2 linked regions of the Homo sapiens genome follow. The protein of the gene in region 1 purifies or fractionates together with the protein of each later gene. This does not show direct contact. Each region holds a gene or a part of one and is shown on either strand. Other genes may lie near its edges.

Evidence for each region. Proteins that work in one complex are often made in the same cells at the same time.
Region 2: the proteins of GRAMD1B (region 1) and TRAPPC9 purify together in Homo sapiens (affinity purification with mass spectrometry; 2 studies listed by BioGRID and IntAct, with this or other methods). This does not show direct contact.

Annotation. Positions count from the first base shown.
Region 1 is NC_000011.10:123,603,083-123,608,458, reverse strand, and holds part of GRAMD1B (protein Aster-B), read right to left. Parts: intron 5,034-5,376; coding exon 4,918-5,033; intron 3,138-4,917; coding exon 2,981-3,137; intron 1,851-2,980; coding exon 1,661-1,850; intron 1-1,660. UniProt on the Homo sapiens protein: Cholesterol transporter that mediates non-vesicular transport of cholesterol from the plasma membrane (PM) to the endoplasmic reticulum (ER).
Region 2 is NC_000008.11:140,437,245-140,440,744, forward strand, and holds part of TRAPPC9 (trafficking protein particle complex subunit 9), read right to left. Parts: intron 1,954-3,500; coding exon 1,808-1,953; intron 1-1,807. UniProt on the Homo sapiens protein: Functions as an activator of NF-kappa-B through increased phosphorylation of the IKK complex. May function in neuronal cells differentiation. May play a role in vesicular transport from endoplasmic reticulum to Golgi.

The DNA.
Region 1 (5,376 bases):
ACACCATTTCCTTTAGCTGACACTACCCATTCCTTCTTTACAAAGTGTTTGGGAATGTACGATTTGCTTTTACACTTTCAAACCTCCCTAATTCAGTTGATCTTAGACTAAAATTCAAATAAATGACTACTTCTGGAAGTTGCCTAAACCCAAAGAATGGGGTTTTGAGAGTCTGTAAGTTAACTCTAATCGACAACAAATTGTAGTTGTAACCCATGGCATAGGTCTGTTCGAGGGAACGTAGACTAATCTGGAAGAATCAGTGTACAGAACTGCTGCTAAGGCTGGGGCTGGTCCAATAGGCTGTGATCCCTAACTACAGTTCCATAAGACAGCCTATTTCTACCATGATGTCAATACCTACTCCCCTTTTTAAACTTAGGATTACAGCTTCATCATATAGCAAAATAAGAATTCAAATCAGAATGAGAGGCACACAGAGCAAGGTGTGGGAGGGCTCCAAAAATGGAGCTTCCTTCAGTCTCAGGGATGCAAAGCCCTTCTGGCACATCACTGTGTCCATATACAGAAGATTGCCAGCCAGGGAATTTCACCTGTAATCTGAATTTTCCAGCTGCTACAGGAGGATGCAAATGAGGATACAGGAGAGCTGCTAAAGCCTCAGTGCTCCCCCCCGAACCCTTGGCACCCCTCAGTCCCTAATTACTGCACCTGCATGGGTGGGTATGTGATCTCAGGAGGAGGCTGCCATTTCTGGCACCCCTAGGACCCTGAGGAAACCAGAGAACTCTGAAGTACCCTGTAGGGGTCAAGTCCTATGACTGCACAGATGGGTACTGCACAAGTGCAGCGCAGCGGGTATTCACACCTTAGTTTATGTGAAAGGCACCCTGGAGTTAGGCAGTATCTAACCCATGCAGTCACTTGTGCCAACCCTGGACTCTAGATGGGGGTGGGTAAACCAACCAAAAGTTAGAAAACCACTGCAGGTGGCCCCTGGGAGAGGTGTCCACAGATCCACAAGTGAGCACCGTGCTCATATGCTCACCAGTCATAACAGACCACTCACTCAATGGAGGAAATCCATCAATTGATTTCATGAATGCTGAGAATTTGGCTTCTCTCCATGGAAGGTAAGCAGCAGCATGTTCCCAAGGGAGGTTCTAGAAGCTAATCCTATGCAGGCATGAAGTTAGAAGCTACCTGCTTACAAAAATTAGAGAAACAAGGGAGTCTCCAAACCCTATTTGACCCAGCAACACCTTTTCTTCTAGCTGGGCCTAAATACCCCATGCAGCAAAAATTGCATTAACAAGTTTCGCAGCTATCTTGAGGACGTTTCTGTTAAAATCTAATTATTTCCAGGGAGCAGCTGACTGGCACCTTCCTTGTGGCTTATAAACATTGCCTAGACTTGCGTGTCTGTGAGGGTCAGGGTCGCAAGGCAAGCCAATGTCAATAGGGGGAACATTTAGTGACAAGACTAAATGACAGAACAAAGCATTATCTATGGGAGGCTCCTACAGCAAATGACTGAAAACAGGGATGTAAACTAATAACAGGTACCTTTTGTTAAGGAAGCTCTGCTCCCATCTCTCCACCAGGAACCTAGAGACTAACTACAGTCCCCACATAGAGATCTCCTTTTAGCCTTCAAAACAGAGCAAGGGCCACTCCAGACCCATTTTCAAATGCCCACCTTCATCGTGTGTGTCGGAAGAGTCACTGAGCTCAGTGGGGATGTCCTCATTGTCATTGAAGTCCAGTGAAGGGGAGTTCACAGGAGCGATCATCTCAATCTTCTCCCCCATGATGTTGTCAATGGCGAGCTCCTTTTCCAGGGACCCGTCTCCCTCCAGCGCCTCTTCCTCCAGGGGCAGCCCATCAAACTGGAGCCAAGACAGAGGAGTCACCCACCAGGGAAACCTGGTCTGGATCTATTCTCCAAAGGGAGATTAGGGATGCAGCCTTGGCAGCTCTCATACTCCCAGCTCAGCTGCTCAGGAGCGAAGTCAGAGTCAGGCTCCAAAGCCCTTCCCCAGAGCTGCCACAGAGGATGGGCAAACACAGTACAAGGACTACTGCACTTCTCACGCTCGCCATTCCAACAGCACAACAAGCTCCCCAAATGCACAGAGCTGGTCCCCACAGGCCCAGGCCCTTTCCTGGAGCCGCACCTGCACCATCCTGCAACAAGGTCAGCCTGCCTCCAGGTAGTACCTGTTTATCCTAAGAAGCTCGAAAGGCTTCATAAGCATTTTTTAAAACTCATTCTCTCATTAGCCCTGGAAGGGAATCGATACAACTCTTTACATTTTAAAGATAACCTCAGAGATGGAAAATAAAGACCAGGTATCCAATGAATAATGTTTTCATTCTGAAGGCAGGTGGTCTGATCCATAGCCTACTGAAATACAAGGCTCTTTGAGGGAGTCCTTTCCTGAAGAACCCTACCTGTTCTTCTGCCTGCCAGCACATGCCCTGACCCTCTTTCCTCATCAAGGTTCTACCTCCTCTATTAACAGAGTCCCACAGGACAGAGGTTCTCTTACACATTTTTATGGCTTCCATAAAGTCTACCACAGTGGAGAAATAAGCCACAATACGTATACTCAACAAATATCAACCAAATGAGTGGATAAACAATTAATTGTTCTATAGTTCTATATTCATGCATGACTTTGACGTCAGATCAAGGCAGTGAAAAAATACCTGGAATTGTTCTCTACCAGAAGGGCTGATCAGCAGCAGCCCAGCACAGTGGGCTTGAAATGGTTTTCATCTGCTCAGAAGTCAAACCCAGTCTTGTACCCCAGGCACCTAGCCCCAGCTCTGGACCCCGGGCTATGCCACTAGAATACGGAGAGCCCATCTGCTCCAGAATGCCTCCTTGAAGAAACTGACAACAATGTAACCAATCTCCTCTCTACCTGCTCCCCAGATTGGGTTCCCAGTGAACTATGCTAGGAAACGCTGGCCACAGGACTGGGGGTAGAAGTCAAAGGCTGACTGCCCATACCGAGACGGGGGCCTCACTGCTCCCTGTGGATGTTAGTGTGCTGTTGGTGATGGATTTCTTGGGCAGCTGTGGACTGGCATCTGGCTTGGTCTCTATGCTGCTCTTGGATGAGCTGTCATTCACTTCATTCTCTTCCACAGGGATCTCTTCACAGTATCTGAGAGGAGACACCAGTGAGTCCACATTACCCTCAGTGGTTCAAGATGGCCAACTATTCTAAGAATCTCAGACCTTTCTATCCATCCATATCTATGAGATTTCCTGCTTCTTTGCTTTGTGTATGATCTTCCTCTAACCAAAAATCCCCTGCCTACCCCATTGCTCTTCTGAAATCTCCTTCATATCCCACCCCACCCCTCCCTGCCCCCCATGTAAAATTCCTGGCTGCAAACTCACCTTTCCTAGGCAGCCTCCTTAGAGTTATCCCTACCTAACTGAAAGGATTATTTGTCTTAAGCTATTTTTTTTCCATGGGTGCCCATCCTATTTGAAGCCTCTGAATCAAATATCTGGGTTCTGAGCATGCATTTCCTTTCCCAAACGGTGACGAAGACAGGACTCTGGACATGAGCGCTCCTTAAGTGGCATTGCCCAAATTCTTGATGATAACTAGAAAACTTCCCTGCATTATACACCTAGAAAGAAAACCTCCTTGAGATGAAGGTGGGTGCTCGTCGAGGAACACTTCAGGGATGCCGCTGTAGCCTCCTCTAAGGGAGCAATCATCAGCCTATCATCATCACCATCATCTGACCTGTACTTAACAAATCCAGATGCTTGACAACTCTCCGGAAATCCTTATGTGCATTTTGGAGATAACCAAATGGGTATTCATAGAGGTTAAGCGACAACACTATTATTTCGACTGAGCCCAGACCTAAGCACAACAGACATTCAATGTTCTTTTCTTGCTTTTTTCCCTGTATGCCTCTTGCACGACCACCAAGCTTGCAGCTAGCTACCCTTCCACCCTCAAGCATGCTTTGTGCCAGTCTACAGGCACATCTTCCCATCTTGCTTAACCTATCGACAGCATGTGATACAGTGACAATACCTTCTGCTTCACTTCCTTCCCGTGGCTGCCAGGATAGGAAACCTTCCTAGGGCCTTCCTCCCTCACTGCATGTGCTTTCAAGCTCTCTTCAGCTGCTTCTTTCCCTCACTGAGTGCTCCCAGGCAGTCCTTGAACTCCTTTTTAGGTTCACCGAGTCACTTGAAATTTCAGCTAGTCTCATGACTATCCACTAATAATTGCTGCGTTTATGGCCTCAGCCCAGGCTTCCCTGTGCACTCCACACTCCATATCTAAATGCCCACTTGGCATCTCCATTTAGCTAACAGGCATCTCAATTTCAACTTGCCTAAAACTACCCTCCTGATCTTTCCCCTGAAACCTGCTTTGCCTACAGTACTGTCCATCTCCGTTTGGAACAATGCCATCCTTCTGGGCAGTAAAACCGAAAAAATCTGAAAGCCACCTTTGGTTCCTTTCTGTTCCATCAACATATCCTTCAAAATCTATTCAGGAACTAAACACTTATTGCCACTTCTCCAAACAACCACCATCCCTCATCTAACTATCTAAATTACTCACCAGCCTCTTCACGGGTTTCCCTGCCTCTGCCCTGGTTCCCCTTTAATGTATTTTCAGTGCAAAGACCAGAGTGATCCTGCTGAAATGTTAAATCAGACCTTAGCAATTATCTTTGCCAAACTTTCCCATCCCACTCTCAGTAAAAGCCAACCATAAAGATGGCCAGGCCCTTAGGCTCTGCCCCCTCGAGCTCCCTGACCTCACCTGTGACCACTTTCCCTCCTTCATTCCACAGTTCATTCCATGGCTGCACAGGCATGTGTGCTGTTCCCTCTGCCTGGCAGGTTCTTCCTGCAGGCACTCGCACGGCTGCCTCTGGGCAGCCGCCCTTGGCCTCACTCACCCCATTGTGTTGAAGTCGTCGTCAGGGGGCACGTAGTCCTCGTCATCACTGGTCAGGCCCAATTCGTTCCCATAGCACTGGTGAACAAAGTGCCAGAGCTCCTTGGGACACAGAGGCTTCAGGGGAGAAAAGGAACGACTGAGCCTTGCTCCCTCAGGTCCCCCGACTCTGCACAGAGGCACTGAGCCGGGCTGGTTCCCCTGGAGAAGAGGAGAAACTCCTCTCTCCTTAGCTGAATGAGAGGCGAGCCACCACCCCCATCTGCCTTGGGGGTCTCAGCAGGACACCAGTCTTCTGCCTAGGAATGTGGACTTTAACAAAGCCAGGAACTGGCCTTTCAGTGCCCAATCCCTCAACAGAGGTTTGTAGAACGTGACCAACTGGCTCCCAGAGGATGGTAACTGTCTCACCTTTTGCTCTTATGGAAAAGGTCCAGCACTGAGTGGCATAAACCCATGT
Region 2 (3,500 bases), on another chromosome or scaffold:
GGTGAAGTAAGATTTTTTTATTTTTTATTTTTTGTAGAAGTGTTGGGATTACAGGCATGAGCCACCATGCCTGGCCGTTTGAAGTATTTCTTATATTTGGCTGGGCACAGTGGCTTATGCCTGTAATCCCAGCACTCTGGGAGGCCAAGGCAGGCATATCAGCTGAGGTCGAGTTCAAGAGCAGCTCGGCCAACATCGCAAAACCCCGTCTCTACTAAAAATAGAAAATTTAGCCGGGTGTGGTAGTGCATGCCTGTAAGTCCCAGCTACTCGGAAGGCTGAGGCAGGAGAATCGCTTGAACCCAGGAGGCGGAGATTGCAGTGAGCCAAGATCATGCCACTGCACTCCAGCCTGGGCAACAGAGCGAGACTCCGTCCCCAAGAACGAAAGAATTTGTTATATTTAATATGTTCTACGGCACCTCGTTAAACTTCTGTTACAGAACTCACCTCATTACTTCATTCCGACTTGTATTATCATAAGTGGCTGACAGGTGTCCTTGCTAAACTGTCAACCTCAACGAAAGAACCCTGTTTTAGTCCTTACCCACACAATGGACTCAGCCAGTCCATCCTCCCAGGACCACCTCCAGGAGGCGCAGTCCCCAAAGGGAAGACCACACACAGACATCCGATTCCACCACGAAGTGTCAGCAACATCTCAGGCAGGGCACCCGCTCTGCCGACTGCTGCGGGGGATCAGAGATGGCTGTGCTTTGAAGTAGGATTTCTTCTTCCCTTTCTTTTAATTTTTAAGATTGACATAGAGTTCACATACCATATAATTCACCCACTTAAAGTGTGCAAGTCAGCAGTTTTTAGTATATTCACAACTGTGCAACCATCACCACTAACTGACTCTGGAACATTTTCATCACCCCAGAAAGAAACCTTATGCCCGTTAACTGTCACTTCCCATTCCCCCTCCTCCCAGCCCCTAGAACCAGTTGTCTACTTTCTGCTTCTATAGATTTGCCTATTCTAGCCACTTCATATATATAGAATCATACAATCTGCGGCCTTTTTCATGCCTGCCTTCTCTCACTTAGCACAAAGTTGTCAAGGTTCATCCGTGCTGCAGTGGTATCACAATTTCACTCCTTTTCATGGCTGAATAATATTCCGCTGTATGCCCATACCACATTTCGTTTATCCATTCATCATGTGACACATGGAGGAGGTTTTGAGGGAGGAGTCTAAGAGGTGAAGATCATGGGGAACGGCATCCAAAGCAGAGGGCAAGGTATACTAAGAACAGAGGAAAAGGGAAAGTGTGGGCAGGGCCTCCTTCAGAGGACGCATGGCAGGGTGGGAGGAGGGCAGCAGATACAGCAGGGAAGCATCCCAGGCCACTGCTCGTGGCAACCAGCACAGGCTGGCTGCTTTTCCTCCCTCATCCCTTCTTTTTGGGGAATTTCTTCTGCCGTTTCCTCTCATTTCTTTTTTTATTTTATTTTATTTTTTTTTGAGATGGAGTCTCGCTCTGTTGCCAGGCTGGAGTGCAGTTGTGCAACCTCTGCTCACTGCAACTTCTGCCTCCTGGTTCAAGAAATTCTGCTGCCTCCGCCTCCCGAGTAGCTGGGACTATAGGCGCGTGCCACCACGCCCAGCTAATTTTTGTATTTTTAGTAGAGACGTGGTTTCACCATGTTGGCCAGGATGGTCTCAATCTCTTGACCTCATATTTGGCCTGCCGTAGCCTCCCAAAGTGCTGGGATTACAGGCGTGAGCCACCGCACCCAGCCTCTCATTTTAATTAACAGTTGAAACAATTACATATCAGATCATCTTCATCAGCTCATCTTACCTCCAAGCCACAGAAAGTCATTCACAGAACGCAGCAGCTCCACCGACATGTGGTAATGCACCAGGGAGTCCTGCAGCATCCCTGCCTGCAGGCACAGGTCCCCCACGTGCTTCCGCATGCGGCCTTGGCACCGCTTCTTGTAATGTCTAGAAAATACATGAAAATGTATCTTTATTACTATACAACTCCCACCCAGAAAGCACTCTGACTAAGCACTATTCAATTCTCTCACTACTAAAAATGCTAAGAAGGCAACTGTAGGCTCTATAATTTTAAGTCAGCAATAATCATTGCCAGTTATGTGAGCTGGAGTGGTCTTAATTTCAAAAATGTACTGCCAAGCAATTTGTTTAAAGGTGATCGGTACGTAAGGACTTCTACCATGTCTTTCACGTAGGCAATGTTACAGTTGGATTTTTCTTTTTAGATTTTCCAGTTGTAACATTAGCATAAGGAAGTTTATGTTTCAGCTTTTTAAAAAAATCAATTATCTTCCACTTCTTAACATCAAACCTCTTATTATTTTATAAAGACAGCTATGCTGAGTCTTATTAGCCAACCATTTGGCTTTAGCAAACAAGACGTTCATCCTCGCTATTTCAGGGCAAGCTTTAGGAAAGCTTCCAGAGAGCAGGGCCTGGGGTGCTCACTAACAGCTCTTTAAATATTGGCAAGGATATACCACTAAATAATGCAAAGGCTTCTGAGTCCCTAATCAACTCAGAAACCAAAGAAACTGTACCAAAGTATTCCTTTTATCATTTTTAAATACATCTAACCTTTAAATGTTATATTTCTTAAGATAGATGATTTTTTTTTTAAAGAAAAACTGCAGCTGGATTAAACTTTCCCTCATCAAGAAAGCAAACTTATCAAGAATAAAACTCCTCTGGAAATCCAGAAGATGTGACGTTTCTAAGTAAATGAATGTTATTGACACATCTCAATACAATGTTAAATCCTATCATGTGTAACTCTAACGAGTTCAACAAACTCTTTGTTACTCTGGAATTTAGCATTTCCATTCTGAATAAGTTTTAAACAAAGATCACAACGTAAGGCAGACGCAGAAAGAAAAAGAAACGCCAGCCTTCGTTTGTCTCCTTCCTGGCCACAAGGCAGTGTCAGGATGGCCCCTGCTAACAGACCCTCCCCATAAGAAAATACAGCATCTAGCAGGGTGCAGTGGCTCACGCCTGTAATCCCAGCACTTTGGGAGACCGAGGCGGGCGGATCACAAGGTCAGGAGATCGAGACCATCCTGGCTAACACGGTGAAACCCCATCTCTACTAAAAATACAAAAAATTAGCCGGGCGTGGTGGCACGCGCCTGTAGTCCCAGCTACTCAGGAGGCTGAGGCAGGAGAATCACTTGAACCCGGGAGGCGGAGGTTGCAGTGAGCCGAGATCATGCCACTGCACTCCAGCCTGGGGGACAGGGTGAGACTCCCAAAAAAAAAAGAAAAGAAAAGAAAGGCATCTGAGCTGCTCTTCCCATCCCAACAGCAGTCACCTCAGCAGCCTCCGCCTAGTCTCTGACTCCTCACCCTGCACCCCCTTCCCCTTCATTGCTTCTATACACACACAGCCAGAGTGTCCTTCCCAAAGCACAAATCAGTCTGTGTCCCTCCCCCACTGCAAACCTTTCACAGGATGCTCAATTCAGTCGTAGGGAGAGGCATGCAGTCCATAG